3 separate regions of the Homo sapiens genome follow, and regions 1 and 2 are each linked to region 3. The links come from fine-mapping of genetic effects on gene expression. A gene starts in region 3. Each other region holds a variant in brackets. All regions are shown on one strand. Distances are between the middles of the regions.

What was found. PIP is the estimated chance that this variant, and not a neighbour inherited with it, causes the effect. A credible set is the group of variants that fine-mapping cannot tell apart.
Region 1: its variant is the best candidate, but not a certain one, in a credible set for the expression of GLG1 in whole blood (INTERVAL, PIP 0.50).
Region 2: its variant is the best candidate, but not a certain one, in a credible set for the expression of GLG1 in whole blood (GTEx, PIP 0.61).

What each region holds. Positions count from the first base shown.
Region 1 is chr16:74,575,530-74,578,213 of GRCh38, forward strand. All of the region lies in intron 1 of GLG1 (golgi glycoprotein 1), which reads right to left. Among named protein-coding and RNA genes, the nearest start is that of GLG1, 30 kb to the right of the region's middle. The variant T/C (reference allele first, on the strand shown) is at 1,700.
Region 2 is chr16:74,561,350-74,564,033 of GRCh38, forward strand. All of the region lies in intron 1 of GLG1 (golgi glycoprotein 1), which reads right to left. Among named protein-coding and RNA genes, the nearest start is that of GLG1, 44 kb to the right of the region's middle. The variant C/A (reference allele first, on the strand shown) is at 1,371.
Region 3 is chr16:74,605,491-74,608,174 of GRCh38, forward strand. GLG1 (golgi glycoprotein 1) reads right to left here and starts at 1,624. Exons shown (of 26, transcript NM_001145667.2): 1 at 1,167-1,624. The coding sequence starts at 1,604. RefSeq lists silencers at 1,195-1,374, 1,605-1,794.

The DNA.
Region 1 (2,684 bases), 30 kb before region 3:
CTCAACCAAACCAAACATACAACCAACTGTAACACCAAAATACAGCCTCAAAGATCTCTCGCTCTGTTTTTGTTTGTTTGTTTTTTTGAGACAGAGTCTCCCTCTGTCGCCCAGGCTGGAGTGCAGTGGCACAATCTCAGCTCACTGCAACCTCTGCCTCCCGGATTCAAGCAATTCTCCTGCCTCAGCTTCCGCAGTAGCTCGCTCTTTATTTTTATGCTGTAAATATAGATATCAATGAGAAAATATTGATTTCATAGAGAAGTGGCAATATATTCAAATTCATCACCAACAAAAAAGCAGTATCACGAAACCATATACAACCAACAGTAAGCATACAAGCACAGTGTGCTCTCATGCTCTCTCTCTCTCTCTCAAAATTCCAAACTAGCCAGGCGCGGTGGTTCACGCCAGTAATCCCAGCACTTTGGGAGGCCAAGGTGGCAGATCACCTGAGGTCAAGAGTTTGACACCAGTCTGGCCAATGTGGTGAAACCCTGTCTCTACTAAACATACAAAAATTAGCCAGGCATGGTAGAGGTTGCCTGTAATCCCAGCTACTCAGGAGGCTGAGGCAGAACTGCTTGAACCCGGGAGGTGAAGGCGGCGGTGAGCTGAGATAGCACCACTGCACTCCAGTCTGCGCGACAGAGCGAGACTCCTTCTCAAAAAAAAAAAAAGTTCAAACTATTTTAAGTCTGTGGTGTCATACATACACATTTGGCCCTGGTTAATAAAACTCCACACCAACTATTAAAGACTGACAAATTCCGTGAATTTCTATAAAAATGCAAGACATATAAAGAGAATACAGCCAAACATTTTTCTAACTTAAAATGACACCATGATTTGGATGGATCATAGACCATTTTAAATGAGTTGCATGTACATTATATATTATAGTCTAAGACACGTGTCAGCAAATTTTTTCAGTAAAGAGGCATACCATACTTATTTTAGGCTTTGCAGAACACATACAATCTCTTGTGGTCTCTATGGCATCCCCTTAATAACCTTTTAAAATTATAAAAACCATTCTTAACTCCAGAGCCATACTAAAACAGGTTGTGGGGCTGGATCTGTCCCTTGGACTACAGTTTGCCCACCTCTGGTCTGAGATATAAATGGGGCATAAATGAGTGCTTCATAAAATAAGGTTGCTGGAGAAATTAGAGAACAAATCTATTCTTTTTTAAGGTACAAAAATTGCTAAACAAAAAAATAATGAAGCCTGCTGAAGAAAAAATTTTTATTGTTTTCATTTTAAATATAATCTTTGAGTATACTTTCTTTACTCATGAATGAGATACTGAATTGAGTAGCTGAAGAAATATTTTTATTTTTACCTCTTGGAAGAAACCATGTACCCTGCATATAAATTCTAACCACTCCTAATTTTTTTTTTTTTTTTTTAGAGGCAGGGTGAATGTCACTCTGTCAGTCTCCCAGTGGCATGAACATAGCTCACTGCAGCCTCAACTTCTTGGGCTCAAACAATCCTCTTGCCTCAGCCTTCCAGGCAACTAGCACCATAGGTGCATGCCACCATGCCTGGCTAATTGTTTTTAATTTTCTGGTAGAAACAGGAGTCTCTCCATGTTGCCTAGGCTGGTCTCAAACTCCTGGGCTCAAGAGATCCTCCCACCTTGGCCTCCCAAAGTGCTGCAAATACAGGTGTAAGCCCACTTATTTTAAAAAA[T/C]AGACATTGAGGACTGGGTGTGGTGGCTCCTGCCTGTAATCCCAGCACTTTGGGAGGCCACGGCGGGTGGATCACCCAAGGTCAGGAGTTCGAGATCAGGCTGGTCAACATGGTGAAACCCCATCTCTACTAAAAATACAATAATAAGCCAGGTGTGGTGGCAGGCACCTGTAATCCCAGCTACTCGGGAGGCTGAGACAGGAGAATCGCTTGAACTCAGGAGGCAGAAAGTGCAGTGAACAGCAATGGCACCATTGCACTCCACCCTGAGAAACAAGAGTGAAACTCCATCTCAAAAAAAAAAAAAAAAGAATCCCAAATACAATAATGAAAAACTATAAAACAGGAAGGGGTAAGTATTCTGACTTCACACGAAAACATTCTTTTTATTTTTATTTTTTTGGAGACATTGTCTCATTCTGTCACCCAGGATGGAGGGTAGTGGCATCATCATGGTTCACTGCAAGCTTGATCTCTTGAGCTCAAGCAATCCTGCTTCAGCCTCCTGAGTAACTGGGACCACAGGCACTACCAGCCACCATGACCGGTTAATTTTATTTTTATTTTTTGTAGAGATGAGGTTTCAGTATGTTACTTGGGCTGATCTCAAATTCCTGAGCTCAAGTGATTCTTCCACCTTGGCCTCCCAAAGTGCTGGGATTAAAAGTGTGCAGTGGCTCATGCCTGTAATCCCAGCACTCTGGGAGGCCAAGGTAGGAGGATTACTTGAGGCCAGGAGTTCAAGACCAGCCTGGACAGTAGAGAAAGACCTTGTCTCTCAAAAACAAAACCCATTCTAACAGCAATCATTTGGATTTGCTCCTTGTTCTCTGTTAAAACTAAAAGAATGAGTAAGACACAATTTTGGTTGTCTGAGGTATTTTGTTTGTTTTTGTTTAATTAGACCTAAGTTGCAATACATTTGATCTCTTTTTGAAAAACTGTTTATTATGAGTATGTGATGACTCATGACTGATGAATAAGA
Region 2 (2,684 bases), 44 kb before region 3:
TTTTCTTTAAGCTCTTTACAACCAAGTAAAATCCTAGAGCATTATGTCTTCAAGAACGTTCATGGAAAGTAATGGAAAGGACCCTAATAAGCACTACTGAATACAAGTTTCTGATAACTTTAGGCTCATCTAATTTGGACTGGGTAAGAATTCCCAGAACTTTAATAAAGAGACTGGTTTATAAAACTGCTAACCCAAGCAGGACAAAAATTAACTGAATACTAAGAAAAATACTCTGCCAGATTTTCATGCTAAATCAGCCAGTACTAAAACTGTTAAGATATGCAACTTGAATGAACTCTATGTTCCAAGTCAAATTACCTATGATAACCCATTTAATGAACAGTGCTATGCACCTGAATTGGAGATACAAAATTGGTATTTAACAGGCTATAAATGCAATGTTAAGCATGGAATCACAGAGATCCTGCACAGCCACCTGGTCCTTCCTGAATCCGTAAATCTTCCATTATTAAAAGCTCTGCACTCCATGACTCATCATGGAAGACAGAAAATGATCCAAATAGAAAACATATACATTGGTGTGGTGACTGCTCTAAATCGCTAAAAATGGTTTATGACCAAGGTTTGGCTTATCAAACCTACAACCTGGGAAGATAATTAAAACTTCAGCTACCTGATGGGTCATTGGAACACTTATAGAGGAATTTCATTCAACTGTCATTTTCAACACGTTTTCTGGTAAAAGCTTTCTCATGCAAGAAGGCTGATGCTATAACAGTAGCTAAAAGGTTGTCAGAAAATGTGTTTCCCTCACGGGGCATTCCTGGAGAAATCTCCAGTGATAGTGGTACTTGTTTCACTGGACAAGTTGTAAACAGTTAAGTAAGGTATTACAGACACAACAGCTTTAGGTGAAGCTAACTGAATTGACTGGTTGCCTTGGTCAAAGGTATTGCAGATTGATGACAACCTCATCTGCTTCCAGTAGAAAATATAAGTTGACTCATTATGAAATAGTCACTGGAAGGCCTATGCCACTAATAATAGAACCTCATGTATCTTCCTCTCCCAAACTCTGATATGAATAAATGCTGCAAGCCTTTAATGCATTATACCAAAGTGTATTTTCACCAGCTAAAGGAAGCTTTTCTTTTTTTTATTTTCTGTAGATGGTCTCACTCTGTTGCCCAGGCTGGAGAGCAGTGGTGTGATCTCAGCTCTCTGCAACCTCCACCTCCCGGGTTCAAGCAATTCTTGTGCCTCAGCCTCCCAAGCAGCTGGGATTACAGGCATGCGCCACCACACCCAGCTAATTTTTGTATTTTTAGTAGAGATGGGGTTTCACCATGTTGGTCAGGCTGGTCTTGAACTCCTGGGTTCCAGAGACCTGACCTCCAGTGATTCGC[C/A]CACCTCGGCCTCCCAAAGTGTAGAGATTACAGGCATGAGCTACCGTGCTGGCAGTAAAGGAAGCTTTTCATGACCCACCCACTGAGGACATTCAAATCCTTCACAATCTAGAACCTGGAGGTTGGTTCTTCTGGAAATGACGTCAGGAAAACACTGCCCTTGTTACCCACAATGAAGCAAAACTCTGGGGCCTCAAACACTGGGTCAATTGATATCACAATGCAGGAGGGCCCCTCCAGACTTGGAATTGTACACCCATTGGAAATCTTAACGTAAAGCTAACCAGTTAGAAAAGGTTTTCCCCCAGAAGCAGATGGCACCCTAGACATGGACAGCTTTCCCAAAAGCATGGATCAAAACTTCTCTGTCATCATGAGACTCTTACCTCTCAATGTTTTCCTTGTTTATGCCTCTATGAACAACAGAAAAGGGGTCTTATGGTGCACCAATGGGGCACACTTTTATTTGTGAAAACTTTTACAGCCAACCTTATCCATAGGCAGCATTATGTCTTAATGGATGAAAGATGACAGTCCAATGTGGGTTAGGAATTTTAATGGTTCTGTCAGAAAGAGAACACTGGTCCACTCCTTTTAACCTACATCAGAGGTGAAAAAGAACACTAGTGCTTGGAAGCCTTCATCATTCTGAATGGCCTTCATTGTTAGGTCACTTTTTCCAGAGTTTGGAGTAAACGATACAGTGTCTAGAAATTTGTCCCTCATGGGCTGGACGCAGTGGCTCATGCCTGTAATCCAAGCACTTTGGGAGGCTGAGGTGGGCAGATCACTTGAGGTCAGGAGTTCAAGACCAGCCTGGTCAAAATGGGAACTCTGTCTCTAGCAGAAACACAAAAATTAGCGGGGCGTGGTGGCGTGTGCCTGTAGTCCCAGCTATTTGCGAGGCTGAGGTGGGAGAACTGCTTGAACCCAGGAGGCAGAGGTTGCAGGGAGCCGAGATCACGCCACTATTCTCCAGCCTGCGCAACAGAGTGAGACCCTGTCTCAAAAAAAAAAAAAAGAAAGAAAAAGAAAAAAAAAAGAAATTTGTTCCTCATGATATGCTCCATAGCAGATTCTACTGCAAAGGCTATGGTTACAAAACAGACTTCTTTAAATTATCTTGCTAAAGGTCTACTGGATAACAGAATTGCTCAAGGTTGCCTACTGGCTAATCAGGGAAGTATCTGTGAAGTTGCTGACACTTTTATTTTTATTCTTTGAGACAGGTTTTTGCTCTGTCACCCAGGCCGGACTGCAGTGGCTCAATCATGACTCATTTAGCCTCAACCTTCTGGGCTCAAGTGATCCTCC
Region 3 (2,684 bases):
ATCTACCAGAGGACTATCCCTCTAGTCGTTAAGCTGAAGATGAGAAGTCAGGTAAGGCCTCACATTTCTAGGGGCTCTGGAAACTTCCTTTCTTTCTGTCTCCTGCTTATGTATGTCTTTTCCTCTATCTGAATTGCTTTTGTATAGAATACTAGAACACGAGATGAAGGGGGGAAATGCCAAGAGAAGCAAATTTCTACAAGCAAGTGGTCTTGCTATAGCTTGAACGCCTTAAACAAATCTGATATTTAAAAAAAAAACCAAAAACAGTATCAAGTGGTAGCTTCATTCTATTTGTCCACCTTTAGGGCTAATTTTATATACCTACACCTCTGGAAAAAGTTACTACTGTCAGATTTGCTCCCAAACTTTGAGAATTGTCATTATGGTCTGCAGCATTAAACCTAGATTATAAATTATCAATGTCACTTGATTATAAATTATCAATGTCACTCAACTGAATCACACCAAGCAACGACAAATGTAGATTTCATTAAGAGATACTGTTAAAATCACATTCAGACCTCAGAAAGGCAAGATCCCATAACCCAGTCACAAACACAGCTTCAAACGCTTCCCCAACTTTTCAAGCTTTGGGGCGCCAAGTCACTGGGAGTTAACAGCTTAAACATGGGGTTCAATACAACTGACCAAAGGAAGTGAAGAAAACAAAGCATACATTAATTTCAGCACCAAAAATATGGATTTGCGAATTACATCTACTGCTAATAAACAGATCATTCTTTACAGCCTAAGTACGCCAGGCATTTTTTTATGTTTAAATGGCTTGCCACAAATTGTCCTAGTCGAAACTGATGGCAAAATCCTAAACTGATCTTCGGCGAGGAGACACTCTGCATAGAGCATCACACAAAAGACAGGAGCGAACAGACACGCTCTGGGCCTCGGCGGATTGCGGCCAGGAGCCCAGGTTTTCGTCCCAGACCCCGGCAACAGGGAGGGAAATAAGGGCGGGGGAAAGAAGGAGTGGGAGTGGTATCCTTTTCCCTGAAAGCGCCTGGGAGTGAGGAGCAAAGAGGGAAGGAGCGAGTGCAGCACAGAGGAAGCAAGGAAAGCAGCCGACCGGCGTCAGCGGCTTCCAAGGCCGGCAACACCCTCGGGCCCGCACCAGGCCTGGCCCTCCCGGCTTCGTCCCACCTCCTCACCTCCCTCACATCCTGCAGGCACTCGAGCACCGCCAGGTTGTTGCTCCAGGTGTGCTTAGGGCACACGCGGGTCACGTCCTCCCTGCAGGACTCTTCCTCCGCCAGCTTCCAGCCCCCACCAGCCCCCGCTCCTCCCCGCCGGGCCGGAGGCCCACCCGCCGGGAAAGGCGGCTGCGGCGGCTGAGGCTGCTGTTGCTGTTGCTGCTGCTGCTGTTGCTGCTGAAGCTGCGATGACTGAGGCAGCTGGGGCAGCTGCTGACCCGCCGGGCCGCCGCCTCCGGCCTGCCCTACGAAGGACACAAAGTTGGCCCCGGGACCCTGGCCCTGGCTGTGGACGCCCTGGCCGGGGAGTTTCTCGGCCCCGGCCGCGAATAGCAGCAGCAGATGCAGCGCCGCCGACAAGCGGAACATCCTCCGTACACGTCCACACGCCGCCATCTTGAGTCCGCGGCGAGCTCGACGCACTCGCCGGCGCCGCGTATTTAAATGAGGGGGTGGAGACGCTGGGCGTGGCAGCGTGGCCCTGCCGAGCCCCGCCCCGCCGGCGCCGACCCGCGAACCCAGAGTGGGGCGAAGGAGGAGGCCGTGCTGGAAACCGCACACACCCTGGACCGGCGGGCGGGAGAGCGGCGCTCCTTACCCGGGGGGGTTGCTGGGGTTTCTTAAAAAGCCCGGGCAGGGCGGCCTACTCTAATTCCATTTGCTGTCACAAAAAAAAAAATCAAGGGAATTGGGGTTGCCACAACCAAAATGGCCGGTAGAATATGTCGCCGGTTCAATGACTTGGAAAACAAAAACTTTATATGTAGAGGTGAACTTTGCACAACCAGGTGTATTACGGAATCGGAAAGCCTCTCCTTGTATCGCTCCCTCCTTCCTTCCTTCCTTCCATCTGCCTCAGAAGTCTTTCTTAGCCAAAGAGAGAGACAGCATTGAATAGGGTTAAGAGCATAAGTTCTGGGGTAAGAAAAAAAATTAAGGTTATAATCCTTGCTCTGGCAGGGTACGCAAGAGCTCAAATGTAAAGTACCATTGGCAAGATTCGAAATAATAATTTAAGTGCCTGGCCCACAACACTGAACTCAAAAAGTCACAGCCAGTATTGTTAATAAACTGGGAAGCCGTTTATGCATGAATCCTGATTTTAAGCCAGCATTTAGATTCATGTTTAAAGGATGAAAAAATAATAATAAAACACATCTTTGAGGACTCGGGTTAAGTCTGTGTGTCGGTAACTGTTCTCATTGACCTGCATGCAACACCGCAGGCACCCCACACTAGCATCCCCTCCCTGTCCTTAGGAGAGAGGATATGTTCCCAAAGCCTCTTCACATCCGCTGTGTAATCTGAGCCATGCATCAGGCCTGCGTTAGGTTCTCATTTAACTGAAGAATGGCACAGAGATGTTAACAGTTCTGCGTGGAGGGATTAAATGAGCTGCCCAAGAGGAACTCTGCCATCCTGTAGACAGCTAGGCTAGCCACCAGAATCCCTGGGGCTTCCCACCACCCTGGCGCA